4 separate regions of the Homo sapiens genome follow, and all the other regions are linked to region 2. The links come from fine-mapping of genetic effects on gene expression. A gene starts in region 2. Each other region holds a variant in brackets. All regions are shown on one strand. Distances are from middle to middle.

What was found. PIP is the estimated chance that this variant, and not a neighbour inherited with it, causes the effect.
Region 1: its variant is fine-mapped to the expression of SORD in lung (TOPMed, PIP 0.99).
Region 3: its variant is fine-mapped to the expression of SORD in monocytes after interferon gamma (Fairfax 2014, PIP 0.95). The same link has a PIP of 0.9 or more in monocytes after LPS.
Region 4: its variant is fine-mapped to the expression of SORD in whole blood (TOPMed, PIP above 0.99).

Annotation. Positions count from the first base shown.
Region 1 is chr15:44,832,294-44,840,177 of GRCh38, forward strand. It overlaps the pseudogene SORD2P. Among named protein-coding and RNA genes, the nearest start is that of TRIM69, 100 kb to the left of the region's middle. The variant T/C (reference allele first, on the strand shown) is at 4,299.
Region 2 is chr15:45,017,435-45,025,163 of GRCh38, forward strand. SORD (sorbitol dehydrogenase) reads left to right here and starts at 5,761. Exons shown (of 9, transcript NM_003104.6): 1 at 5,761-5,915. The coding sequence starts at 5,850. RefSeq lists a silencer at 5,541-5,710 and an enhancer at 6,480-7,130.
Region 3 is chr15:45,087,239-45,093,768 of GRCh38, forward strand. DUOX2 (dual oxidase 2) reads right to left here. Exons shown (of 34, transcript NM_001363711.2): 34 at 5,412-6,530. Among named protein-coding and RNA genes, the nearest start is that of DUOX2, 24 kb to the right of the region's middle. The variant C/A (reference allele first, on the strand shown) is at 2,562.
Region 4 is chr15:44,985,566-44,993,449 of GRCh38, forward strand. No RefSeq gene overlaps it. Among named protein-coding and RNA genes, the nearest start is that of TERB2, 33 kb to the left of the region's middle. The variant C/T (reference allele first, on the strand shown) is at 4,181.

The DNA.
Region 1 (7,884 bases), 190 kb before region 2:
AGTCAAGGAGATTGATAAAGAACAAAGTCTTACCAGTCACCACTACTTGAGCTGCTCCCATTGCCTTGGCCACGAGCAAAGTGACTACCCCGATTGCCCCTAAACAAAGCAAAAGATATAAGATTGTGAAATATTAAACATCTGCTCTCCCACTTGTCCAGGCCACGGACAGGAACCATATCTTTTGTGTGTCTCTAGCATCTATCCCAGTGCCTGGCATGATAAGACCTTAGCGGCTGTTTGTTGAATGCAGAAGAGAATGAATCCATGAAGAATTATTCTCTACATAAAATACGCTCCTAGTGCTGGGTTCTATTTAATCCTCTCAAACCTCAGAGCTAAAATTTTCCCACTTACTCCTGGGCACTAGTGGAGATAATCTCAAAGAACCACGGGATTCAAGGAAACACAAACTTACTCAGAAAATAAGAAATCTCAGAAGGTCTGGACTTGTTTTCCTGTTCTTTCTTTGCCCCTACCTTCGTGAGAACCCATCACACCTCCCCCAGAGAGAGACATATTCCTTTTAGGTGCCCTCTGAGGACCACCTGGAGAGGGTTCTTAAGTGAGCTGGCTCCCTGGGTTGGCCCAGGTGCCCAGATAGCCCCAGGATACTCAGGTATCCAAGGATTTGCCTGAGACACCTGCTTCCCCATAGTATCTGCATGCTATGTGACACTATGGTTTTAATATAAAAATCAGACCCACAGAATGAAAGCAATGCAGAATATCTTTGGGGGTTTACTTTTTGTACACATCCCCTAAGAACAATTTTGTGAGCTCCCTCAGAAAACAAAACACTGAAAAATAATACCTGAAATGTCCAACAAAGCATGATTAAAAAACTACATGGCTACTAAAAATTACGCCATAACTCTTTATCTATTGACATGGAAAAATGTTCACAGTATATTGATTTTTTTTTTTTTTTGGAGACAGAGTCTTGCTCTGTCACCCAGGCTGGAGTGTAGTGTTGCAATCTCAGCTCACTGCAACCTTCGCCTCCCGGGTTCAAGCAATTCTCTCACCTCAGCCTCCTAAGTAGTGGAGATTACAGGCGCCCGCCACCAAGCCTGGCTACTTTTTGTTTTTTTAGTAGAGACAGGGTTTCACCATGTTGGCCAGGCTGATCTCAAATTCCTGACCTCAGGTGATCTGCCTGCCTCAGCCTCCCAAAGTGCTAGGATTACAGGCATGAGCCACTGTGCCCAGCCTGATTTTTAAAAAAGAGTAGGTAAAGGAAGCGTATTTAGCATGGTCTCAGAAAAAACCAACTAACTAAAAGATTCTATACCCAAATATTAATAGTGGTTCTCTTGGGCTAATCGGTAATGGGATTACAGGTGAATTTCTGTGTGTGTGTGTGTTGGGGGCAAGGCATGCATGTGTGTGGTATGTGTGACTTATTTTCCTTTTCTATGGTAAAAAGGTACTGGATCCATGCAGATTTTTATAAGAATCTGTCACCTGAGTCCCGCAGTCTGCTAGCCCATTGTGGCAAGTCTATTCTACATCCATCACCCCTCTTAGGAAGCCGTGTGATCACTTATTTGGCCAGCCAAAGAAAATCACAAACAAGTATGAGGAACACCAGATCACACCCACAAGGAGTGTGAGCGTACTGTCTGGGTCACCAGAATGATTCGTTCTGAGGCTGCTAGGGCTTGTTCCAGATGGCTGGAAAGATGGCTGGAAACAGGGGATGAGAGAAGGCAGCTAGCTACAACCCTACTGCAGGCAGACTGCTGGCTCACAGTGGTGTGGGAGCAGACCACTGCTCACTCCTCCCACTGGCTGGGAGCAGGGTCTACCTTATTCATAGATGGGACTAGGCCATCACTTTGCTGGTATAATTTGAAAGTTCCAAGAGTTGCCCTTCCCTTTACTATCAAAAATATTTCTCTAAGGTGGAGGTTGCAGTGAGCCAAGATCACGCAAATAAAAAAATTTTCCTAGTTTCCCATCAAGGGTTCAAAAATAATCGCCAGATTAATTCCCTTTTTTTTTTTTTTTTTTTTTTTTTTTGAGACAGAATCTCGCTCTGTCGCCCAGGCTGGAGCGCAGTGGCATGATCTTTGCTCACTGCAACCTCTGCTTCCCAGGTTCAAGTGATTCTCCTGTCTCGTCCTTCCATGTAAGTGGGACTACAGGGGGCGCACCACCACACCCAGCTAATTTTTGTATTTTTAGTAAAGATGAGGTTTCATCATGTTGGCCAGGCTGGTCTTGAACTTTCGGCCTCAAGTGATCCACCCGCCTCAGCCTTCCCGAGTGCTGGGATTATAGGCATGAGACACTGTGCCTGGCACAGATTCATTCTTTTTGTTTGTTTGTTTTGAGATGGGGTCTTGTTTTTTTTGAGACAGGGTCTTGTTCTGCCACCCAGACTGGAGTTCAGTGGCACAATCATGGCTCACTGCACTCTTGACCTCCCAGGCTCAAGTGACCCTCCCACCTCAGCCTTCTGAGTAGCTGGGACTATAGGCACACACTACCACACCGGCTAATTTTTGTATTTTTTTGTAGAGATGGGGTTTCACCATGTTACCCAGACTGGTCTCGAACTCCTGGGTTCAAGTGATCCACCGGCTTTGGTCTCCCAAAGTGCTGGGATTATAGGCAGGAGCCACCGTGCCCAGCCAATTCATTCTTTAAATGAATGAAAGGGCTATGTTGCCTAGGACATATAACCCTAGTTAATATCATGTCCACAGATACTCATTTGTTTAGCAAAGTGCTAGTCACTGAGGGAATGGGACACTGCAATCCTCCTTTACCCAGAAGGATTCTAGAACAAATCTCAAGCCTTGGAGGGGGAATGAGATGGGCAGAGGGTTCCCTGAATTCCCAGTCAATGAACCCGCAACAGGGTGGCTTCTGTTTCTTACCAGCTCCACACACAAGGACCTTGTGTCCCAGGGTAACTCCGCCTCTCCTGCAGGCATGGATCCCCACAGAAAGTGGATCAATCAGGGCGCCTTCCTCAAAGGTGACATTGTCAGGAAGCCTGAGGAGTCAATTGACACACAGAGATCCTCTGAGTTAACTACAATGCTAACAATAGTATTATATATGCCCAACGTCACTGTAATAACAACAATAGCTAACATTTATTGAGCATTTATTTATGTGCAGAGCAATGTGCTAAGCAATTTATATACATTAACTCACGTAAATCCCTGGAATAGTTCTGTGGTAGGTACTATCATTCCCATTTTACAGATGAGGAAACAGGCGTGGTGGGTTAAATGACTTGCCCCAGCGGTCCAAAGCTAGTGAGGAGCCAAAAGCGTTCAAATTAGAAGCCAGATATGTTCTCATCACAGAACCCATGCCACAATGTCCCCATCTGAAGAAGGCAACATGGTTTTCTTTGGGTAAATCAATTCAGTGAAATGAACACATTATGTTTTCTTTAATGTGCTATCCAAGGTACGGTATGGTGGTTATCATTAATAAATGAAAAGTTTGTTTATTTATTTACTTATTTATTTATTTATTTATTTTTGAGATGGAGTCTCACTCTATCTCCCAGGCTGGAGTGTAGTGGCGCAATCTCGGCTCACTGCAAGCTCTGTCTCCCAGGTTCACGCCATTCTCTCACCTCAGCCTCCTGAGCAGCTGGGACTACAGGCGCCCGCCACCATGCCGGGCTAATTTTTTATATTTTCTAGTAGAGACGGGGTTTCACCGTGTTATCCAGGATGGTCTCGACCTCCTGACCTTGTGATCCGCCCGCCTCAGCCTCCCAAAGTGCTGGGATTATAGGTGTGAGCCACCATGCCCGGCCGAAAAGTTTATTTAACAAGGAGTTAATATGGCCACCTTCCAGCATCTCATCTGCTTCCCAAACTTACAGCCTTTTTAGTTTCACTTTAGCAAACAATCCTGACTATCACCAGTTTTGCAGAACAGTGATTTAGCAATGGGCATCACTCTGATAGTCGCCTCCCATATTATACATTCCAGAAGAACCACATCTGAGGACAGCAGCTGCCCCGCTGACCCAGGACCAGTTAAGATGAAAGGACCTGTTCCACATAGCAGATTAAATGCTGTGTCACCTTCACTCTGGGTTCTAGGTTTTCACTTCCACTGGCATCTTAACCCTATCAATAATACAGCTGATGACGACAGCAAATATCTGCATAAAGCTTTACAGATTAGGAAGCATGCTCATCCGTTATCTCATTTAATCCTCATGAAAACCATGTTAGGCAGGTAGGGCAGGCTTTTTTTAAAAAACATTTATTTTACAGAAGAGTAAACGGAAACTCACTGACATGACATTAAGAGAA[T/C]TGCCAAGGTTATGAAGCTAGGGAATGAAGGCCAGACTTAACAAAGGTGTCCTGATTCCACATCCTCTGCCTGTCCCATATCAGCTCCATCCTGGTATGAGCAGCTGTGTAGCTAATATTAATATCTAATTTCTGCTAGTTCCTCACTGCCCAGGATTTACCCAGCACCCCAAATCTCCACACACAGGAACAGGAAAACCCTCAAGTTCCAAAAAGAAATAAATGTGACAGCCAAACCATGTGCTCATCCCCATGATCCTTTCAACACTGTCTCCAATCTTCAACAGAATAACTCGGAGTCCTCCTGTCACTGTCCCTGATCCTTGACAGAACTACTCACCAGGCCAATGGAGGCCCAGCTGCCACCCACCACCCCCTTATCCCTTCCCCTCGGCTTCTTTCCCATCACTTCCCCTACTCCAATCCACTCTCCTGCTCTGACTGCGGTCACACTCCTTCTACTCCCCCTAGAAGTATCCCTTCTATATAATAGGAAAAAGGTGAAAATGAAATTGTGAAGATGCCTAAACTCTCTTAGGGACTCCACAGGTTCCTAGACATGCCTGCCCTTCCACATCTGGGCCTCCTGAGGAACTCATAAGGGCTCTATGCAGAGGGTGGCTTGCGTGGAAACTACATCAAGGAGAGATGGGATTGGGGAAGGTGATGAGGGAAGATTGTTATCAGGAAGAATACTCTACTGATTAAGCAGATGCTGCCTCATCCGCCTGCACCCAACACAGCCAACTGTGTTGGAAAGCCACCTGGTGTGGAGGCAGAAGCATGCACAAGGAGTCCTGGAGGCCAGCCCCGCTGCCACTGACCTTGGGAAAACCACTGACTCCACCCTCCCCAATCTTGTCCAGTGGGGGTTGATGGAGAACGAGGATGAGAAGACTCCAAGTTTCTTCCCAGCCCCAACCTTTCATGCTTTATAAACACCAGAGAGTGATGAGGCAACTTGGTAGTTTTTACAATGGGGTTCAGGGAACAGTCCAAATTGGGTAACGGATGATCAAGAAGCCAAGGAGGAAGCAGGAAAATAGAAAGAAAATAGATACAAAAATAAAGAGGCTGTGGTAGTATGGGAATCCTAAAAAGACATCAGAGAGGAGGGCTTGGGTCTAGGGAAGAACTGGGGACACAGGCAGAAAGCCCCCTGGGAGGAGAAGAAAGGCAGGGCTGTAGGACTCCCCAGAGACCTTCCTCAGCACCCCCACTGCCACTGCCACTGCCAGCCAGAGCCCCATCATTCCCTATAAACCACCAGCACAAGGCTCTCTTTCAGGCCTACTCCTGCACCTCCATGCCCAGACCACTAGGCCATGACTATGGCATAGCTTGGTACCATTTACTGAGCACCTACTATGTGCCAGACCTCATGCTGGAGACTTGATATGCTTTTCTCATTGGATCTCATCAGTAATTCTGTGAGGGAGGTACCATTACTATTTCTATTTTACAGGCGAGGATATTGAGGTTACAAAATTTAAGTGACTTGCCCAAGGTCACACAGTTGTAATTGGCAGAGACCAGTGGGCTTCACCACTATGCTCTTCTGCCTTCCATGAAACTTTCGTTTGGTGTCTTGACTTGGAAAGGGCCCCAGAAAGATGGGCCCATTCAGGAACCACTTGCTGAAAGGTGTACTCTGCACATGTAACCTGCTTACTTCTAGAGCAGGTTCAGGTGTTGACTTAAACCCATCACAAGGTCTCTGGCCTGTGACTCCTCTCAAGGCTCCCAGTGGGCCCTAGAAAAACTCAGATCTGTCAGACTGCTCCTGTGACTGGCACCTGGCCTCCATCGGACAAGCCCCATCCTGGCTGAAAACCACCACTGAGGCCAGGCTGCGGTGGGGGAAGAATGCATCTGGGTTGGGTCAGGGGGAAAGCGGCACTTCGGCACCCTAGAGCTCCACGGCTGGGGCCATGGGGGGCCACGCAGAAAGGGAGGCACTTTGCTTCCTCCAGACTCAACTTCACAATTTCAGGGGTGAGAATTGGAGTAGGGTAGGGGAGTGGGCACAGGGCAGGAGCTTGAGACTCACAGAGACCCCAGTTTGACTCTTGGTTGTGCTCTGTGCCCAAGTCAATGAGCTTCCTTCTGCCTTGGTTAACCCAAAAATGGTGCCCACCTCAGCATTATTCTTGTGGAGATTAAATAAATTGAAGCATGCAAACCACTTATTAGCACAAGGGCAGGCACATAGTAATAATAATTATGACTCTCCATGCATCACCTTATTTAATATTTTGGCGATTAAATGAAACTGAAGCAGAGAAAAGTTAAATCATTTCTCCAAATTCACTTGCCAGGAGGGAGTAGATCCAGGATCCCAGAACTCAAGCCCTGGCAGCACACCACACCTCAGGAAATGTCAGCCGTTGCTGTCATGGTGTGTTGTTGCTATTGTCGAGGTCATTGTTGTTACAGGTTTCCTTTCTGGTGGTTGCAGTGGAAACTAATAACAGAGGATGAACCACAGGAATTCCCTCCAGGATGTCTGCAGAGGGTGAGTGATTTCAGCAATAATTTTCTATTGTTGCTCTAAGTAAGGGAAACTGGAACTGAAAGACTAAAACCAACCACTGTGAGTCAGTCTTATTCCTAGGGAGGCTACCCTCTCTCAATGCCACCAAGAAGAGTAGCCTGCCCAGGCGATGCCTCATGTTTGGAATTAGGAGCTGAAAGAATAAAGAAATAACCACAGGAAACAGCACCAAGTTAATGAAGGGAAAGAGGTCCCAGGTGACCCAGTGGGACTGTGGACACTAACTTGTAACAAAAGGCTGCATTGTGCTTATAGAACTGGCAGAGGTTCCCATCATCAGGGGGTGTGGCACAGAAGAAGATGGAAGGTGACAGATTGTATCGGCCCATCTTGCAGAATTCATCATTTTCTCGGGGAGCACCAGATTCGATGGCAACACGATCACCTGGAGAGGAAAACAAAGATGGCACCATGTCCGAGGGTGGGAGCAGAGTCTGCCTCCTCTTTGGTCCGGTTCTTTGTTTTCCAACCTTTGAAAACAGCAGAAGCAGAGATGTTATGAAGGCTTGCATGCTCATGGGCAGATGCCAGATGAGAGAATCTAGCTTAACGAGCCACCCTCCTCCCTGGGGACCCAGGGTGTCTTAGGCAAGTGAGGAAACTCGGGATGAAGCACAGAGTCACTCTGGGGGAAAAGGACCAGCCCCCTCCTCCACAGCCCAGTGTGGCCTGCCCTTTTTCCAGCTCCTGCAACAAGCCAAGCCACCCTCTATCTCCACAGCCACTTCCCAGCTAAGGCAAGCCAAGTATAGTTCCCATCTCACACTGCTGGAAAAGGGGTAGCTAATACATGGAGTTTGCAGGCATTTTTTCTTCATCTGTTTGGAAGATAGAAAGCAAAGCCTTTACAAAGACAACAGCTATAATTACAGCATGTTTTATGTCCAGTTTGGTCGTTTTTAGACAATAATTAGGAGTCAACTGATTCCTGGTAGTAGAACTGCAAAGGCCAATGACCTGCAGAGGCCTCATACAGTGGAGAGTAATACTTGAGGCTTCTGAACAGCCAGCTCTATTATATTTCTACTCTAT
Region 2 (7,729 bases):
GATGTTCATCAGGGATATTGGTCTAACATTCTCTTTTTTAGTTGTGTCTCTGCCAGGCTTTGGTATCAGGATGATGCTGACCTCATAAAATCATTTAGGGAGGAGTCCCTCTTTTTCTATTGTTTGGAATAGTTTCAGAAGGAATAGTACCAGTTCCTCTTTCTACCTCTGGTAGAATTCGGCTGTGAATCCGTCTTGCCCTGGACTTTTTTTGGTTGATAGTCTATTAATTATTGACTCAATTTCAGAACCTGTTATTGGTTTATTCAGAGATTCAACTTCTTCCTGCTTTAGTCCTGGGAGGGTGTATGTGTCGAGGAATTTATCCATTTCTTCTAGATTTTCTAGTTTATTTCCATAGAGGTGGTTATAGTATTCTCTGATGGTAGTTTGTATTTCTGTGGGATCGGTGGTGATATCCCCTTTATCATTTTTTATTGTGTCTATTTGATTCTTCTCTCATTTCTTCTTTATTAGTCTTGCTAGCAGTCTGTCGATTTTGTTGATCTTTTCAAAAAACCAGCTCCTGAATTCACTGATTATTTTGAAGGGTTTTTTGTGTCTCTATCTCCTTCAGTTCTGCTCTGATCTTAGTTATTTCTTGCCTTCTGTTAGCTTTTGAATTTGTTTGCTCTTGCTTCTCTAGTTCTTTTAATTGTGATGTTAGGGTGTTGATTTTAGATCTTTCCTACTTTGTCTTCTGGGCATTTAGTGCTATAAATTTCCCTCTACACACTGCTTTAAATGTGTCCCAGAGATTCTGGTACTTTGTGTCTTTGTTCTCATTGGTTTCAAGGAACATCTTTATTTCTGCCTTCATTTCATTATTTACCCAGTAGTCATTCAGGAACAGTACAGTTTTCATGTAGTTTTGTGGTTTTGAGTGAGTTTCTTAATCCTGAGTTCTAATTTGATTGCGCTGTGGTCTCAGAGGCAGTGTGTTGTGATTTCTGTTCTTTTACATTTGCTGAGAAGTGCTTTACTTCCAACTATGTGGTCAATTTTGGAATAAGTGCTATGTGGTGCTTAGAAGAATGTATATTCTGTTGATTTGGGGTGGAGAGTTCTGTAGATGTCTACTAGGTCTGCCTGGTGCAGAGCTGAGTTCAAGTCCTGGATATCCTTGTTAACATTCTGTCTTGTTGATCTGTCTAATATTGACAGTTGGATGTTAAAGTCTCCCATTATCATGGTGTGGGAGTCTAAGTCTCTTTGTAAGTCTCTAAGGACTTGTTTTATGAATCTGGGTGCTCCTGTATTGGGTGCATAAATATTTAGGATAGTTAGCTCTTCTTTTTGAATTGATCCCTTTACCACTATGTAATGGCCTTCTCTGTCTCTTGATCTTTGTTGGTTCAAAGTCTGTTTTATCAGAGACTAGGATTGAAACCCCTGCTTTTTTTTTTTTTTTTTTGGCTTTCCATTTGCTTGTTAGATCTTCTTCCATCCCTTTATTTTGAGCCGATGTGAGTCTCTGCAGGTGAGATGGGTCTCCTGAATACAGCACACTGATGGGTCTTGAATCTTTACCTAATTTGCCAGTCCATGTCTTTTAACTGGGGCATTTAGCCCGTTTATATTTAAGGTTAATATAGTAGGCTTCAGAAGGTTGGTAATAACATACTTCTCCCAGCTAAAGAAGGATGTTTGAACCCATCATGCATTGTTATGTGTGAATTTGATCCTGTCATTTTGATGTTAGCTGGTTATTTTGCCCATTATTTAATGCATTTTCTTCCTAGCATTGATGGTCTTTAAAATTTGGCATGTTTTTGCAGTGGCTGGTACTGGTTGTTGCTTTCCATGTTTAGTGTTTCCTTCAGGAGCTCTTGTAAGGGAGGCCTGGTGGTGACAAAACCTCTCAGCATTTGCTTGTCTGTAAAGTATTTTATTTCTCCTTCACTTATGATGCTTAGTTTGGCTGAATATGAAATTCTGGGTTGAAAATTCTTTTCTTGAAGAATGTTGAATATTGGCCCCCACTCTCTTCTGGCTTGTAGAGTTTCTGCTGAGAGATCCAGTGCTAGTCTGAGGGGCTTCCCTTTGTGGGTAATCCGACCTTTCTCTCTGGCTGCGCTTAACATTTTTTCCTTCATTTCAACCTTGGTGAATCTGGCAATTGTGTGTCTCGGGGTTGCTCTTCTTGAGGAGTATCTTTGTGGTGTTCTCTGTATTTCCTTAATTTGAATGTTGGCCTGTCTTGCTAGGTTGTGGAAGTTCTCCTGGATAATATCCTGAAGAGTGTTTTCCAACTTGTTTCCATTCTCCCTGTCACTTTCAGGTACACCAATCAAATGTAGATTTGGTCTTTTCACATAGTCCCATATTTCTCGGAGGCTTTGTTCATTTCTTTTTACTCTTTTTTCTCTAAACTTCTCCTCTCACTTTATTTCATTAATTTGATCTTCAATCACTGATATCCTTTCTTCCATTTGAATGAATTGGCTGTTGAAGCTTGTGCATGCATCACATAGTTCTTGTGCCATGGTTTTCAGCTCCATCAGGTCATTTAAGGTCTTCTCTACACTATTTATTCCAGTTAGCCATTCGTCTAATCTTTTTTCAAGGTTTTTAGCTTCTTTGCGATGGGTTTGAACATCCTCCTTTAGCTGGGAGAAGTATGTTATTACCAACCTTCTGAAGCCTACTTCTCTCAGCTCATCAAAGTCATTCTCCGTCCACCTTTGGTCCGTTGCTGATGAGGAGCTGTGATCTTTTGGAGGAGAAGAGGCACTCTGGATTTTAGAATTTTCCGTTTTTCTGCTCTGGTTTCTCCCCATCTTCGTGGTTTTATCTACCTTTGATGCTGGTGACCTACAGATGGGGTTTTGGTGTGGATGTCCTTTTTGTTGATGTTGATGCTATTCCTATTTGCTAGTTTTCCTTCTAAGAGTCAGGTCCCTCAGCTGCAGATCTGTTGGAGTTTGCGGGAGGTCAACTCCAAACCCTGTTTACCTGAGTATTACCAGTGGAGGCTGCAGAACAGCAAATATTGCAGAAGAGCAAATGTTGCTGCCTGATCCTTCCTCTGGAAGCTTCGTCCCACAGGGGCACCCGCCTGTATGAGGTGTCAGTTGGCCCCTACTGGGAAGTGTCTCCCAGTTAGGCTACATGGGGGCCAGGGACCCACTTGAGGAGGCAGTCTGTCCATTCTCAGAGCTCAAACACTGTACTGGGAGAGCCACTGCTCTCTTCAGAGCTGTCAGACAGGGACGTTTAAGTCTGCAGAAGTTTCTGCTGTCTTTTGTTCACCTATGCCCTGCCCCCAGAGGTGAGGTCTACAGAGGCAGCAGACCTTGCAGAGCTGCGGTGGGCTCTGCCCAGTTCAACCTTCCCGGCTGCTTTGTTTACCTACTCAAGCCTCAGCAATGGCGGACGCCCCTCCCCTGCCAGGCTGCTGCCTCAGACTGCTGTGCTAGTAGTGAGCAAGGCTCTGTGGGCGTGGGACCCACTGAGCCAGGCACAGGATTTAATCTCCTGGTGTGCCATTTGCTAAGACCGTTGGAAAAGTGCAGTATTTGGGTGAGAGTGTCCTGATTTTCCAGGTACAGTCTGTCACAGCTTTCCTTGGCTAGGAAAGGGAAATCCCCCAACCGCTTGCGCTTCCCGGGTGAGGCAATGCCCCTCCCTGCTTCGGCTCACCCTCCATGGGCTGCAGCCACTGTCCAACCAGTCCCAATGAGATGAACCAGGTACCTCAGTTGGAAATGCAGAAATCACCGTCTTCTGCATCGATCACACTGGGAGCTGCAGACCGGAGCTGTTCCTATTTGGCCATCTTGGAACGGAATCTGGATGATTTACTTTTGGCTACCAATTTGGAAGCCTCATGCCAGCAGGCTACTCTAGATCTCTTGAACTTTCTAGGTAATCAAGCGGGCAAGGTGTCTAAACTGAAAGCCCAGCTCTGCCTACAACAAGTCAAATATCTAGGCCTAATCTTAGCCAGAGGAACCAGGGCCCTCAGCAAGGAACAAATACAGCCTATACTGGCACCGGTCCCTCAAGGCGTAGCACCAACCAGATTGATAAACTCACTTATCTGACCTTGTGGCCCTCGCCCAGAAACTGACTCAGTCCAAGAAGACAGCTTAGATCCCCTATGATTTCATCTCTGACCCAAACAATCAGCACTCCTGACTCACTGGCCTTTCCCCACCCATCAAACTATCCTTAAAAACTCTGAGTCCCCGTATGCTCGAATGCTTGGGGAGCCGGATTTGAGCAATAATGAAATTCCAGTCTCCTGCATAGCTGGTTCTGCATGAACTCTTTCCCTATTGCAGTTCCCCTGTCTTGATAAATTAGTTTTGTCTAGGCAGCAGGCAAGGTGAATCCATTGGGCGGTTACATATTGGGGAGGGGGGACTGTAAGGGAATGAAATCCTGAGCATTATCCTCAAAGGAGGGAGGGGCCTTATAGACTTAGGCCTATCTAGAAGCGCCTCTCTCCTCAGAGAGTAAAACCTCACTGTTTCTCAGAGGGCTGAGAGGCTTGAAGGAAGAGTTTGGGCAGAAACTCTGCTTTGAATAGAAGCAGCAGATCCAGTTGAGAGAAAGAGGTTCACAAATTCCATTTCATGGCTTTTTTTTTTTTAAAGACAGATTTTCACTCTTGTTGCCCAGGCTGGTGTTGAATGGCATGATCTCAGCTCACTGCAACCTCTGCTTCCCAGGTTCAAGCTATTCTCCTGTCTCAGCCTCCCGAGTAGCTGAGATTAAGGCGCATGCCACCATGCCCGGCTAATTTTTGTATTTTTAGTAGAGACGGGGTTTTCACCATATTGGTCAGGCTGGTCTCGAACTCCTGACCTCAGGTGATCCACCTGCCTCGGCTTCCCAAAGTGCTGGGATTACAGGCAAGAGCCACTGCGCCCGGCCTCATGTCTTTTTTATACTTAAGCACCAGGCCCATGTAATGATGCACGAATTCATTTACTCCTACTCGTGCCAGGCCCTTTCCTGGGGGCTGGAGACAAAGGGCCGACGTGGACGCTGCGTCATGGTAGCACCTGTCTCGCAAAGTGCACACCGTGCTCCACCCACAGCCTCAGCATTCTCGTTGCTAGGAATATGGACCCTCAGGCAGCACCTCAGACCTAGACCTACTGTATCAGAATCTCTGTGCTGGTCCTGAGAATGTGCATTCTCAACAGCGCCTCACATTCCCCACCCCAATTCTTCTGCAGCTAACGTTTGAGAGCGCTGGTCTGGTGCCTACTGCCTCTGCAGGCGGTTTTCAAGGCAGCCGTGTGTGCTTGCATGTGAGGCGGCAAAAACAGCGCGCTGCAGGGCCGGCGCGGTGGCTCACGCCTGTAATCCCAGCACTTTGGGAGGCGGAGGCGGGTGGATCACGAGGTCAGGATATCGAGACCATCCTGGCTAACACGGTGAAACCCCGTCTCTACTAAACAAAAATACGTGGTGGTGGGCGCCTGTAGTCCCAGCTATTCGGGAGGCTGAGGCAGGAGAATGGCTTGAACCCGGGAGGCAGAGCTTGCAGTGAGCCGGGATCGCACCACTGTACTCCAGCCTCGGCGACAAACAAACAAACAAACAAAAAAAACAGCGCGCTGCAGATGGAGCCAGCACCCGGGCTTCTCGCTCCCAGCCCCCTCCCGAAGCCCCGCCCCGCCTCCGGGTCTGGAGGAGGCTGGGAAGCCCCGCCCCTCCACGCTAGCGCCGCCCAGGCTGGCACAAAGGAGGAAGCCTAGTCCCGCCCCTGCGTGCGGCGCTTCTCCCAGGCCCCACCTTCCATCCAGTGCCCTGGACCCTCGGCTGGGTAGCGCCACCAGAGCGACCAAACGTCCCGCGCCTTCCAGGCCGCACTCCAGAGCCAAAAGAGCTCCATGGCGGCGGCGGCCAAGCCCAACAACCTTTCCCTGGTGGTGCACGGACCGGGGGACTTGCGCCTGGTAAGCTGGGAAGGAGGGTGGGAAGCATACCGATCCTGCCTCACTCTCCTCTGAGCCCAGCCATAGTCCTGGCTTCCCACTTCCAGCCTGGCGCCGGCCCCGCACCTTAAGCGCCCTGGCTGCCCAGATCCCAGCTGGTTCCCCTCGGGGTGTGGGGGCAGCAGGTAGTGGCTGTTGCGAAGGGCAGGGATCTAGTCGTGTGCCTCCCGGAACCTAGCCCCGTGGCTGGCACGTGGCCGGTGCCCAGGACGGTTGCAAACTGTTTGAATGAAGCTTTCTCTCTCCTTTGCCAGCTGCAGATTCATAGTCCAGCCTCTTGTCATTGACCTTTCCAAAGGAAATGCTAAGGCTGTCTGAATTATCGGGGCAGACCGTGCAGAGCAGAGAAAGGGGGGCCAGAGGACACTTAGAAACAGCAGAACTTGTATTTAACTCCCTTGCTTGGGACTGATAAACCTCCCTTGCAGGATTATGATGATCACAAGAGTACTCAGCACTTAGTACGTGCTCAGGAAGTGCCAGCTCCTTCTCCTTTCCTTCCAGTCTAGGCCTCCATCTCCAGAACCCCTGCTGTTCCCCTTGCCTGTGCCAGACTTGTGGATCTTGATAGCTCCCTTGTCTGTAAGGATCCTTCTCTCCCTAAGACCCTGTCTGGTTCACTTTCCAGCAGTTTTTCTTTCCAATCCCGTGCCTCTGTCCCTTTAGGAGCATTCTGTATGTGTGTCCTCTGCCTTAGACCCTGCCTTTTGCTCCCTGGCTTGTGGCACCAAAGTTTAGGAAGTGGCTGAGTCAGCAGCCTAGTCATGCCAAGCCTCCCTTGACAAAGTCCCTCTCAGATGGGCCTGGGATGGCAGTGGGTATGTGGGATGAGTGCCAGCCATCTCTGCTGCTCCCCTGTACCTCTTTTCCCTCAAAGTACATGCGTCAGTATGTAAACTGCAGTAATTCAGAAGCTTATCCAGGTTAGCAGTTCTTGACTATTTAAGAATCTGTGGTGTCCCCTCCACAGAATGCAAATAGACTGAGTTTGGCAACAATTTCAGACTGCTCAAGGACTCCCTTTAAGCCGCTCTAAGCCCCTCTATAGAACCCTTGTCCCAGCTGACTCTCCATCTCCTCAGTTGAAGAAAGTACCATACCCAAGGTGATAGGTTTTGTTAGTTAACAGAGCCACGACAAGGACTCAGATGTTCAGACTCCCCATTCTAGTGCTCATTCCACTCTTTGGAGCCTCCACCCAAGGTCCTGAATTAAAGTGAGGCTGTTAGTGTTTACTGTTGCAAATGCCAGATGGTATTATGAGTAAGGGAAAGTGGTCCAGCTCTACCCAGCTTGCAGAGTGATTTCCAACTCAGTACTTCATTCCACAAACATTCACTCATGAAAGGGTGCCTGCCATGTGCCAGGCACTGGGCTGAGGGCCCAGAAAGGAGGACACAGCCCCTGCTCCCAAGTTTACTGAGGGAGGCAGACAGATAAAGTCAACAATTATGACAGAGCCCGAGGGCTTTGATGGAGGCCTCAGAGAGAAAAGACGCCACAGGGAGGGGCCCTTGGCCCTCTATCTGCTCAGAGCCTGCTTAAAAGTCATGCACCTAAGGTGCAGAAACACAGTTAAGTTCTCCTTCATCTTACCTCAAACTCATGGTCTTCCACTGCTCAGGCAGACTACCTCTACTATGGTTCCGTAGACAAAGCTTTGAAGATTAGAGCAGCAGCGAACTAACCTTGATCTCATCAGCTTTGCATTAGAACCCACTCTCTGACTGGATTAGGGGCTAGGTTGGGGTGGCTGTAACCTGAAGTATCTAGAA
Region 3 (6,530 bases), 69 kb after region 2:
CATTCCCCAAAGCTTATGCCTTCCAAAGATGTCAGCCTCTTCTGAGTCCTGATGAGGTGCGGCTCTTGTTTTCCAGAACGACAGTGGGTGTTGTTTCCATATCACACTGGGTGTTGGCAGATCCAAAGGTAAGAGGAATCCAAAGATGCTCTTTCCTTCAAAAGATGCCATCTTTAGGGTCTGGCTGTGGAAGAGGAACGTAGTCCAGTCAGCAGGGTGAGTACTCCAGCCCAGTGATGAATGTGTACATGGACCTTCTTTATCCTTCAAGGTTAAGCTCAAAATCCCCCTCTTGCAAGGACCTTTTCTGAATTCCCTTTCTGAATCCACTCATCTTAGCATTTAATCAGTTGCTTATCACATAGTGTAATGTATTCACGAAATATCCCATGAGAATGTGCTCTCTGTCTGGCACTTTACTAGGCAGGGGAAAAATGACAGTGAACTATAGGCATAGGTCCTGCCCTCTAGGGGGCTTATAGCAGAGAAGGAAAGAGGAACATTGAGCAAGCATTGTGCTTGCTGGTGTGATGAGTTACTGTACTTTCTCCCTAGAGCTGGATTGGTTTTTGGCTCCTGGAGGGCAGGAAGTATGTCTTGCTTTTCTTTTGGACCCTGTGGGATCTAGTATGATCTGTGTTCACAGCAGTTGTTCAATGAATACCATCAGAACAATTAACAATGGAAAATATATTATGAAAAACCTTGATTGCTTATACCTTTAGAGGCATCAGGATGCAAAGAGCAGAGACTCTGAGATATCATAGGATTCAAACCCTCACTTTGCCTGTTACTAGCTGGATGCCCGTGGGTGATGTACTCTGAGTCCCACATGCCTCGTCTATACAATGGAGGCAGTAATACCTTCTCCAGAGAGTTATTGTGAGGATTAAGTGAGGCAATTTATGTAAATGTGTTACAGGACCCAACACAAAGTAAACCTGTAAATATTAGTTCCCTTTCCCCAGACTATTTAACCTTGGTTGAGAGGCCAAGGAAACTGTTTTCTTCTATCCATTTGAGACACCGAGTGCAGAAGGGAAGAGTGAAGTTGCAGGTCTAGAAGGGGTCTTAGCCTAATCCTTTTTTTTTTTTTTTTTGTGAGACAGGTTCTCACTCTGTCACTCAGGCTGGAGTGCAGTGGCAATCTCAGCTCACTGCAACCTCTACCTCCCAGGTTCAAGAGATTCTTGTGCCTCCACCACCTGAGTAGCTGGGATTACAGGCACCCGCCACCACATCTGGCTAATTTTTGTATTTTTGTATTTTTAGCATTTTTGTATTTTCCCCATGGGGAAACATGGGTTTCCCCATGTTGACCAGGCTGATCTCGAACTCCTGGCCTCAAGTGATCCACCTGCCTTGGCCTCCCAAAGTGCTGGGATTACAGACGTGAGCCACCGTGCCCGGCCAGCCTAATTCTTTTATTTTCTTGGTAAGACAAATAGAAGCCCATAAAACTCAGGTGACTTCCCTCAGGTTACTTGGTGATTTGAGCAGTAATGCTGGAAACAAAACTCAGGTCCCCTGATTCCAGCATCCAGTGCATTTTGGGCAGCCTTTCCTAAATTCTCACTGCCAGCCTCTCACTCTCAGAAAAGCTAGAGCCTTCATGTTACAGCTCATCTGAGGTCACTGGCCAGGGAAGATAAGGGTTCCTGTGAAATCAGGGAGAGACTTCCCAGGAAATTTACAGCTCCCTGGAGACAAGACAGGGAGGTGGTCACTTAGTAATTTTCCACTCCATGCAAGGTCAGGATGGATTGACTTTCACATGATCAGGGTGGCTGGGTAGTGTGTCCCTGGAGGTTAGAGCAGGCCTCCTCCTGGCTTCACAGAGCCAGAACCTGGTGGGACACAAGAAAGTGAGCGGGAAGCTGGGGAAATGAGAAGGAGGGATGATGAGATAGGGGATAAATCTGGATTAGAAACAAGTCACTCACCATTACTCAGGCCCCACAAACCGCAAACTCCTCAGACTATGGAGCTCTGCTGTCAGAGCTTCGGCTTCTCTTACTAATAGGTGATGCTCGTAACAATATTACTAGGTGCCAGGCACAATTAAGGGCTCTCCATACATTAGCTTCACCTGAACGCTTGCAGCCTGCTTTTGAGTGACAGGATAAAGTGGTAGTTAAGGGCATGATATCTGGTTAAACTTTCTGGGTTCAAATCTAGTCTCCTCCCAAAGTGGGAAGATCTGCTTGAGCCCAGCAGTTCGAGACGAGTCTGGGCAACATGTCTCTACAAAAAACTTTAAAATTAACTAGGTATGGTAGTGCATGCCTGTAGTCCCAGCTACTGGGGAGACTGACGCAGGAGGATTGCTGGAGCTCAGAAGTTCAAGGTTACAGTGAGCTATGATCATACCACTGCGCTCCAGCCTAGGTGGCAGAGCGAGACCCTGTCTCTATAAAAAGAAAAACCTAGTCTGTCTTCTCACTTACATTCTAGATAACTTTGAGCAAGTTGTTTAAGCCTCTTCGTGCTTCAGTGTCCCTTATCTGTAAAATGGGGATTGTGGCTGTTCTAAGGATTAAGTGAGTTAATGCATTTCAAGT[C/A]CTTATGATAGCACTGGGCACACAGCAAGCTCTGTATGCATTAATCATCATAGTTTTGTTGTCGTCATCTTAGAGGGCTTTCTTTAATCATCCTATCTAAAGAGTTCCCCTTAGTCAGTCACTATCATTTCATAGTTTTATTATCTTCAAAGCACTTGTGATCTGTGACCTCCTTCTTCTCTTCCTCTTCCTTCTATCTTGTTCATTGTCTGTTTCCTTCCACTAACATTTAAGTTCCCTAGAAGCTGTGCCTGTGCCCGGGACATAATAGATGCTCAACACATATTTGTTGAATTGAATTATATTATTAGATCTTCCCAAACCCTATGGAGCAGGTAATCATGTTATCCCCATTTTATGAAGGAGCAAACTGAGGCCCTGAGAGTTTTCTTTGTTTTCTCAAGGTCACCCAGCTAGGACTCAAACCCAATTTGACTTAAGAGCCCTCACTCTTAAGTACTATGCTGGATTGACTCCTCTTACTCAAAAATTCTTAATAAATAAGGAGATATCTGCACTCCCATGTTTATTGCAGCACTGTTCACAATAGCCAAGATTTGGAAGCAAGCTAAATGTCCATAAACAGATGAGTGGATAAAGAAAAAATGGTACATATCACAGTGGAGAGCTATTAAGTCATAAAAAAGAATGAGATCCTGTCATTTGCAACAATATGGATGGACCTGGAGAGTACTGTGTTCAGTGAAATAAGCCAAGCACAGAAAGCCAAACGTTGCGTGTTCTCACTTATTTGTGGGATCTAAAAATCAAAACAACTGGACTCATAGAGATAGAGAATAGAACAATGGTTACCAGAGTTGAGGGTGTTGGGAGAAGTGGGGGTTGTTCATGGGTACAAAAATGAAAGAATGAATAAGACATAGTATTTGCTACCACAGCAGAGAGACTATAGTAAAAAATAATTTAATTGTACGTTTAAAAATAACTTAAAAAGTATAATTGGATTGTTTGTAACACAAAGGATGAATGTTTGAGGTGATGGATACTCTCCCCTTCAAAAAAAGAAAATATATTTAGACCTATTTCTAAGCAAAAAAGTTAATGTCAGGACAGTATATGAACTATGATTCAGTCATAATGTGTACGTAAATACAGTATGTGTATACATGTATAAACAAAACCAAACAAAATGAAAATTCTTAGTAAGTAGACAGGAATTATGCCACATCTTAGCAATGTTCTCCTCTTTCACTTGAGGCAGAAGTTGGGGCTGGAAAGTTGGAAAAAGGGGCAAAGATCCAGCCTTCATTCCTCTCCTACAGAGCTCAGCTTCAGCCCCTCCTGTCCTCATCCACTCCTTTTCCCCCTGGCCCCAAAGCCCTTCCATCCAATCTCATGCTTGTCTTCCTCTTCTCCATCCACAGTCCCATTACCATCCAATCCCACCCGATTCCTTGTCCATCCCTGTTTCATTCTCATCCTCATCCCTATTCCTGGGAGGCAGGGTTTGGGTTGGGCTTTGTCCCAAAGCCTGAGACAAACATCTCTGTAACCCAGAGCGGGGAAGATTTGCTTTCCTTTACACGGTTTATGTGATCATTTCCACGAATTCCCTCTGAGTCATCTTCCATCTTTCTCTGGGACATTTTTGTAGCCTCCCTCGTTTGCACATTTTTCAGTCTAATCCCTCCCCGACACACACTTATGCAATGACCTCGCTTTCTGAACCCAAGGTATCACCCAATAGCTGCCTGATCCTGCCTTCTAGCCCACTTCTCAAAGAGTTGGTCATAAAGCCCCAGGAAGGGTAGGACCAGGTTAGTATCTAGGCAAGTGTTGAGGCTGAAGACACTTTTAACCTCTCTGCAAGTCCTTGACTTTTATCCCTGTCATTCAGTGGCTTTCTGGGACTCTGTGCAGGGTTAGACAGAGCAGCCAGATCACATGAATACATGCTTAGGGCTGACATCTACAGCCTGACTGGCGTGTGGAGTCAGGACTGAGGCCAGGCAGGCTGAGTGCCATCTGAAGTGACTCAAGATAATGGCAGCATGTCCCTCTATCCAGCTGGACATACACTTGGCATTGCCCGGTGTTTGGGCAAGAGTTGGCTGGGGATACATCTTCAGTGATGACAAAGTCTTTGGGAGATCCTCACTTAGGCCCCAGCATGGCAGGGAAGTCAGGGCTAAGCAGAGAGTTTTATGGATAATCTTGATAGCCATGTTAATGCCATTCTCCAGTCTAGCAAGGATGGGTGAATTAGGATGGAATGAATAAATACTTTGCACAGTTTTTAGAAAGGCATAGGGAGGAACTGCAGGGTCAGATTTGGGAGTAAAGCTAAGGCTGAGACTGAAGGGGCTGGAGTTTGGGATTACTGACTGGTTGTGCACTTACTAAGGGCAGGAAGGCTGGAGGACTGCAGGAATGATGCTGTTGATAAATAGGTGAACTCATAATCATCACGCACCGCAACTATGGAACACAGTCTCCTGCCTTTTCTCATCTGTGTAATTGTCTGGGCCAATATTGTTATTTGACTTCCCAATACTCTCACAGACATTTGAATAAATGAGGAAGAGGCCCAGAGGAGTTAAGGGATTTCCCTCCATAGCTATTTGCAGATAAAGTGGGCACTAGAATCCAGGTCTCTTGACTTCTGATTGGTGCTCTTCCAGCCTTGTCAGAGAGATACCTTCAACAGAGGGGGTTGGGAACCAGAGGCATTTGGCCTGGCTGAAGAGGTAGGGTGGGGCCAGTGAGAAGACAAACCTGGTCTGAAACTCTCCCTCCACAGGTCCTACTGGCTGGATAACTGTATGACCCAGCAATTCCACTCATAGATACATACTCAAGAGAAATGAGTGCATGATGGCCACCAAAACATAGGTACAAGAACACTCACAGAATTTTTATTTATAATCATTCAAAATTAGAAACAACCCAAACGTCCATCAACAGAAGAATAAACAAACTGTGGTACATCTCTACAATAGAATACTACTCAGCAATGAAAAGGAACAAACTGCTGATACACACAACAGCATGGATGAATTACAAAGGCATTATGGTGAGTAAAAGAGGCCAGTCTCAAAAGAGTATATTTAGTAGGACCAAAACTGGATTTGGTAGAAATCACATCAGTGGTTGCTTCTAGGAGCTAGGGGAGACGAAGTGGAAGGGGGTACAAGGGGAGTTTCTGGGGTGATGGAAATGTTGAAACATTCTATGTCTTGACCTGGGTGGTGGTAAAACATGTACATGATTATTTATTATACCTCGATGTAAAATATTTTACAGCTCAGCTTTTTAGGAAAGAGCCCGATGAAAAAGGAAAAGAAAAGTTAAAGAGCTGAGTATGGAGGGGATGTTTCAGCCTGGCTCTTGCGTAAGGTGACCAGCTGTCCCAATCTGCCTGGGACTGATGGGGTTTCCTGGGGCAAGAGACTTTCAGTGCTAAAACAGGGAGAGTCCTGGGCAAACTAGGACAGCTGGTCACCCAACTCTTGTGGAAGAGGGGAATTGAGATCGAGTACTGAATATCTGGCAGAGAGGCTGGAATCCTTCAGCCCCAGAGCCCAGGGACCACTCCAGTAGATGCAGAGAGGGGCCTGCCCAGGGGTCAGGGCAGTGGGTATCACTGGTGACATCAAGAATATCAGGGCTGGGGAGGCATCTTTGTTTCCTGGTGCCCTCCTCAAAGTTGCTGACACTTTGGGGACGGGAAGGGGTAGAAGTAGGGCTGCTCCTTTTGGAGCTGGAGGGAATAGACCTGGAGACAGAGTTGAGGCAGTCGGGCTGTCCAGGTTCTAAGCATCACAGCTTCTGCACTGGGCTCTGAGGAGATTCTCAGCCAGAGGATCCCAGCCTCCTCCTCCCTCAAATGTCAGTCCAAGCAAATACCAAAGCAACGCATCGATTTTGTGGAAGTCAATTAGAGATGTGGGGAGCTATCGGAGACAAGCACTATTGTACCTTTTCACCTCCACACTTGTCACAAGCAGG
Region 4 (7,884 bases), 32 kb before region 2:
GGATATATTGGTTTAAATAAAATATATTGTTGAAATTAATTTCACCTTTTTTTTTTTTTTTTTTTTTTTTTTTTTTACTTTTTTAATGTGGCTACTTGACCATTTAAAGTTAGGTACACCCTGGGCAATATAGGGTGTAGACCCTCGTCTCTAGAAAAAAAATAATTAGTTGAGCATGGTGATGCATCCTTGTAGTCCCAGCTGCACGGGAGGCTGAGGCAAGAGGATCACTTGAGCCCATGGGTTCAAAGTTGCAATGAGCTATGATTGTGCCACTGCACTCCAGCTTGGGTGACAGAGTGAGACTCTGTCTCTAAAAATATAAATAAATAAAACTGTACATGGCCCACATTATACAGTTGGCCCTTCATATCTGTGGGTACTGCTTCTGTGGATTGAACCAACTGTGGATCAAATATACCTGGAAAAAAATAACAATACAACAATAAAAATAAATTTTAAAAATATAGTATAACAACTATTTACATAGAATTACATTGTCTTAGGTATTACAAGTAATCTAGAGATGATTTAAAATACACAGTAGGATGTGTGTAGGTTATAAGCACAAACTACACCATTTGATATAAGGGACTTGAGCATCGTGGATTTTGGTAGCTGTGTTGGAGGTGTCCTGAAACCAATCCTCTGCATATCCCAAGAGACCACTGTATTTCTATTGGACAGTGCTGTTCTAAAGGCTGTTCCCCAGGCTCAGGTACCCTAGGAAATTTGGAAAACCCTTGGGGGAAACAGATAGATCTTGATACTGAGCCGGGACCCAGTCCCACTGGTATTTACCAGTCCTGACCTGGATCCAAACTCCCAGGGACTTTGGAAGTGCTATAGGCGTCACTTGGGTCTAGGCTATGGTGGAGTCAGGTCACAGATAGGAAACTTGGTTCTCTCCGTTCTGTGTTTCCCTGTGACTCAGGCCACAAGAACATATGTGACAGGGTGTTGGTTTGTTTTTTGTGTTTCTTTAAAGTGGCTTCCTTGAAGACACAAATAGCTTCTGAATGGCAATGATAAGGAGCCAGTCTGGTAGAGTCTTTCATAAGAGCAACTAAGCTTTTGATCATTAATCATTTAGCATACTGCTTGCCTAGGTGACTTCTTATATACAGAAAAAGGCGGCAAGGTGACGACTGAAACAAGATGCTATGCTGCCAGCTTTCAAGATGGAGGAAGGTCCCCAAGAATGCAGCTCTAGATGCTGGAAAAGAGAAATAAACAGATTCTCCCCTAGAGCCTCTGGAGGGAGCTCAACTTTGCAGACACTTGGATTTTGGCTCAGTGACACTGATTTCAGACTTCTGACCTCCAGAACTGTGAGAGAATGAATGTGTACTGTTTTTAGCCACCAAGTCTGTGGTAATTTATAACAGCAGCCATAGGAAATGAATACAGCCAGGCACTATTCTAAAGGACTCCCTTGTATTGGTTCATCCAACTCTCACCTCTTCCCATCTCCTCATTGATGATGGGGAGGTGTATCCAGGGATCATACTTACCAATCTACCATCCTCACTAGGCTTCACCACACACCTGTACTCACATGTGCAGAACCTTCCTGACCCACTTTATTCTAGGCCAGGGAGAGACCTGAAGAGCCTCAAGCCACAGCTTTCTCCCAAACCACTCCTCACCAATCCCATAACCCCATAACCCAGGGTCCAGAGTGAAAGAAGTTGCAACAAGGAAAAAATAATTATCTTTTCACTGACTTGTTTTGTAAATCTGGATTTTTATATTAGGTTAGGATGAAGGTGGCACCTTCCTCCATCTCAAGGGCCAGCAGCATAACATCTGGTTTCCATCATCACATTGCTGCCTTCCTCAGTAAAACCCTTCCTAGATTTTACTCCCTCTATCTCCCTCTTATAAGGACACTTGTGATTACATTTAGGGTCCACCCAGGTAACCCAAGAAAATTTCCCCATCTCAAGATACTTAATAACATCTGCAAAGACCCTTTTTCCATTAAGGTAACATTCACAGATTCCAGGGATTAGCACCTAGATATCTTTCATGGCCATTATTTAGCTGCCACAGTTGTATAAAGCAAATGCTTAAGAAACTAGCTATTATTATTACTGTGCTAAGCACTTTTTATGTGCTAATTAATCCTCACTACAACACTATGAAGCAGAGACTATGGGTATCCCATCTTACAGAGAAGAAAGAGGCTTAGAGAGCTTAAGCAGTTGCCTAAAATCAGATGGCAAGTGTCAGAGCCCATGCTCTTAGCCTCCATACAGGCTGATTTGGGGAGCACACCTATGACTGCACTTGTGGTAAGGATGACGCTCACCCTACTTTTCCATTTGAATCATTTGAGTGGTTGTATGTGTTCTTGGAGTAGGGGTGGTCTTTCCCCATAGAGTGTCATCTCTTTCAGGACAAGGAGTCTGTCTGTCATGCACTTTCTCTTGTGGTTTGGTGCTCTGCACATACTGAAAACAAAATTAATATTGTTGATTTAACTGCCAAAGCTGGAGCACATAAGGATCATTAAGTGCAAAGAATACTGATCAAACAGAACAAGCTCTACCTCCTTATTTGCCAACCCCTAGAAGTTGAAATGGTGACAGGGGTGAGTTGAAAAGGAAGAAGTTTAGTTTTACCTTCTAAAGGTCAGCCTGTCTGTTGTCTGGTACAGGTAGAGATTACAACAATAACCCTTCAGGAAAACATTACATTTTGTCCCATGAAAAATAAACAGCATTTTGTCCATGCGTCACATACTAGTCTTTCTGGCATGATGGACTGTGGTTAAACTCAGCATATCCTGGGAATGGGTAGGAGAGGGACATCATTGAGTAGGAGAAAGTGAAACTGGGAAATGAACTGTGGAGAAAGAGATCTCCACAGGGTCAGTGACAAGTATTCAGAATGATCATGGGAAAAAGCGTAGTGTGGAGGAAAAGGGGGGCCGTGGAAGTGACTGAAGTTCAGACTGCATTCTGGGAGATGAAAGAAGCAAACAAGGGCACAGCACTAAGGAAGGAGAGGAGAAGGAGTTTGAGTTATACAAGATGTTCTCTGAAAAATGAAAGATACCAGAAGTGGCCATATTAAAAACCATCTCATAATGGACCTGCTTTACTTCAGAAGGGATAAGTGCTAGTATTTGCTAAGTCTGAGAAGTCACCATCACAGTCTTGTCATGATGAAGCATGCAGTGGCCACCCCAGAAACCTGAATCACCAAAGCTTCCTTTCCTCACCTCATTGCCATATAAACTGACTAGACTGGGATGGGAGAAAAAGATGGAGGCTTAAAAATATCCTCTCCAGCATCACCCAGGCACTAAGGGCAGTGAGGTGGCCAAGGTCCCATTTCTAGGGCTTTTAGATTTCCATTGATACCGCTCTAGGGGATTTGATGGATGTGCTTGTTGGCTCATCATGTCATCCCCTTTCCATAGGCACATCTGTAAAAATGTCACCAGAAGGTGGCCCAGTGAGCAGGAAACCCCAGGGGTGGGGTACGGGAGGCTCCATGGTTCTAATGGCTGATGCCACCCTGCTTCACTGGCCTGATGCCTCCATGTCTGTTATTAGGGTGTTCCTACTGTGGGGATTGGCACATTGTTTTCGTCCTATGTTATTATGCAACCGATTAGGTTGAGACTTAACCTAATCCGGTGCAGTCCAGTTCCTATTTTCCAAAGATGACAGTATACCCAGGCCACTTAAATTTGATCTGGGTGTTGGTGAGACTATTACACACCCACAAATAATCCAATAATCTCTTTGGCTGTGTCATTTCTACTGGTGTCTAACCTCATCCTTTTTATTTGGGTCCCATTGATTTATATTCTAAGTTTTAGGGATACTTTGGGGTGTCATCCCAACATATTGCCTGTATAAATACTGTCTCCTTAATTCCACAATTGAACATTACAGAGAGTTAGTGTTATTCTTATTTTACGTCTGAAAAAAATGGACACTAACAGGTTTGGTAACTTGTCCAAAATCACGTAGCTAGTAAATTCTAAGAATTGTGATTCCAGGCGGGCGCGGTGGCTCACGCCTGTAATCCCAGCACTTTGGGAGGCTGAGGCAGGCAGATCACGAGGTCAGGAGATCGAGACCATCCTGGCTAACACGGTGAAACCCCATCTTTACTAAAAATACAAAAAAAAAAATTAGCCAGGTGTGGTGGCAGGCGCCTG[C/T]ACTCCCAGCTACTCAGGAGGCTGAGGCAGGAGAATGGCGTGAACCCAAGCAATGGAGCGTGCCGTGAGCTGAGATTGTGCCACTGCACTCCAGCCTGGGCGACAGAGCGAGACTCTGTCAAAAAACAACAACAACAACAAAAAAGAATTGTGATTCCATCTCTGATCACTCTGGTTTTAAAGTTCAGTCTTTTCCTACATAATGCTGAAGTGACCGGGAAAAGTCAAGCTTCTAAATTGGCAATTCAATTGGGAATTTACTATTATGGTCTGTGATGATGACATCTTATATCATGTACAACAGTGGATCAAACCTGACTGCACATCAGATCATGTTGTTGAGCTTTTAAAAACTATACATGCTTGGCGAGGTGTGGTGGCTCATACCTGTAATCCCAGCACTTTGGGAGGCCGGGCATATCACCTGAGGTCGGGAGTTCAAGACCAGCCTGACCGACATGGAGAAATCCTGTCTCTACTAAAAAATACAAAAAATTAGCTAGGCATGATGGCACATGCGTGTAATCCCAGCTACTCGGGAGGCTGAGGCAGGAGAATAGCTTCAACCTGGGAGGCAGAGCTTGGGATGAGCCAAGATCGTGCTATTGCAATTCAGCCTGGGCAACAAGAGCAAAACTCCATCTCAAAAACAAACAAACAAACAAAAAAACAAAAAACTATACATGCTTTGAATGTATTAATACAATTAGATTTGCTAATATTTTGTTCAGAATTTTCACATGTATGTTGATGAGAGAGATCATCCTGTAATTTTCCTTTCTTGTAATGTCCTTGTCTGTTTTGGATATCAAGGTTATGCTGGCCTCATAAAACAAGTTATAAAGTGTTCTCTTCTCTCTCTTTTTTTTTTTGGCAGTGACAGGGTTGCACCTTGTTGCGCAGGCTGGTCTCAAACTCCTTGGCTCAAGGGATCTACCAGCCTTGGCCTCTCAAACTGCTGGGATTATAGGCATGAGCTACTGCACCTGGTTCTTCTCTTCTTTTTTAATGCCTTCTATATAGACAATGTTATCTGTACTATTTCTATAGTTTATATCTCACAAATATTTTCATTTTGGCCTAATACATGGTCAATTTTTGTGAATTATCCACAGATACTTTAAAAAAAAGGTGTATTCTCTTTTTTGAGTACCAAGTTTTATCTGTTATTAATTATGCTATTTAATCCTTCTCTGTCATTTCGGCGTCTACTACAATGTTTCCATTTTTTCTTGTATATCCTGTGATTTTATGTTTTAATTAATATTCATGGAGGTGCTAAGTTATTTGGTGCTTAGGTATTTATAACATTGTAACTGGTGAACTGCATTTTTTTATCATTATAGATTATTTATTTGTACCCCTTAACATTTGTTTGTCCCAATGTTAGCCTTGCCTGATGGGGAGAAACCAGAGCAGAAAAGCAGGAAATTCCAAAAATCAGAGCACCTCTTCTCCTCCAAAGGATTGCAGCTCCTCGCCAGCAATGGAACAAAACTGGACAGAAAATAAGTTTGACGAGTTGACAGAAGTAGGCTTCAGAAGGTCGATAATAACAAACTTCTCCAAGCTAAAGGAGGATGTTTGAACTCATCATGAGGAAGCTAAAAACCTTGAAAAAAGGTTAGATAAATGGCTAACTAGAATAAATATGTAGAGAAGACCTTAAATGACCTGATGGCGCTGAAAACCACAGCACGAGAACTGCATGACACATGCACAAGATTCAATAGCTGATTCGATCAAGTGGAAGAAAGGGTATCAGTGATTGAAGATCAAATTAATGAAATATAGTGAGAAGACAAGATAAGAGAAAAAAGAGTGAAAAGAAATGAACAAAGCCTCCAAGAAATATGGGACTTGTGAAAAGACCAAATCTACATTTGATTTGTGTACCTGAAAGTGATAGGGAGAATGGAAACAAGTTGGAAAATACTCTTCAGAATATTATCCAGGAGAACTTCCACAACCTAGCAAGGTAGGCCAACATTCAAATTAAGGAAATACAGAGAACGCCACAAAGATACTCCTTGAGGAGAGCAACACCAAGACACACAATTGTCAGACTTACCAAGGTTGAAATGAAGGAAAAAATGTTAAGGGCAGCCAGAGAGAAAGATCAGGTTACCCACAAAGGGAAGCCCATCAGACTAACAGCAGATCTCTCGGCAGAAACTCTACAAGCCAGAAGAGAGTGGGGGCCGATATTCAACATTCTTCGAGAAAAGAATTTTCAACCCAGAATTTCATATTCAGCCAAACTAAGCTTCATAAGTGAAGGAGAAATAAAATCCTTTACAGACAAATAAATGCTGAGAGGTTTTGTCACCACCAGGCCTCCCTTTATAAGAGCTCCTGAAGGAAATAGTAAACATGGAAAGCAACAACCAGTACCAGCCACTGCAAAAACATGCCAAATTTTAAAGACCATCAATGCTAGGAAGAAACTGCATCAATTAACAGGCAAAATAACCAGCTAACATCATAATGACAGGATCAAATTCACACATAACAATATTAACCTTAAATGTAAATGGCCTAAATGACCCAATTAAAAGACACAGACTGACAAATTGGATAAAGAGTCAAGACTCATCAGTGTGCTGTATTCAGGAGACCCATCTCACATGCAGAAATGCACATCAGCTCAAAATAAAGGGATGGAGGAAGATCTACCAAGTAAATGGAAAGCAAAAAAAAAAAAAAAAAAAAAAAGCAGGGGTTGCAATCCTAGTCTCTGATAAAACAGACTTTAAATCAACAAAGATCAAAAGAGACAAAGAAGGCCATTACATAATGGTAAAGGGATCAATTCAAAAAGAAGAGCTAACTATCCTAAATATATATGCACCCAATACAGGAGCACCCAGATTCATAAAGCAAGTCCTTAGAGACCTACAAATAGACTTAGACTCCCACACAATAATGGGAGACATTAACACCCCACTGTCAATGTTAGACAGATCAACGAGACAGAAGGCTAACAAGGATATCCAGGACTTGAACTCAGCTCTGCACCAAGCGGACCTAATAGACATCTACAGAACTCTCCACCCCAAATCAACAGAATATACATTCTTCTCACCATCACATCACACTTATTCCACAATTGACCACATAATTAGAAGTAAAGCCCTCCTCAGCAAATGTAAAAGAACAGAAATCACAACAAACTGTCTCTCAGACCACAGTGCAAACAAATTAGAACTCAGGATTAAGAAACTCACTCAAAACTGGAAAACTACATGGAAACTGAACAACCTGCTCCTGAATTACTGGGTAAATAACGAAATGAAGGTAGAAATAAAGATGTTCTTTGAAACCAATAAGAGCAAAGACACAATGTACCAGAATCTCTGGGATACATTTAAAGCAGTGTGTGAGGGAAATTTATAGCATGAAATGCCCACAACAGAAAGCAGGAAAGATCTAAATTCAATACCCTATCATCACAATGGAAAGAACTAGAGAAGCAAGAGTAAACATATTCAAAAGCTAACAGAAGGCAAGAAATAACTAAGATCAGAGCAGAACTGAAGGAGATAGAGACACAAAAACCCTTCAAAAAAATCAATGAATCCAGGAGCTGGTTTTTTGAAAAGATCAACAAAATAGATAGACCACTAGCAAGACTAATAAGAAATGAGAGAAGGATCAAATAGCCACAATAAAAAATGATTTGCATTCCTCTGATGACCAGTGAT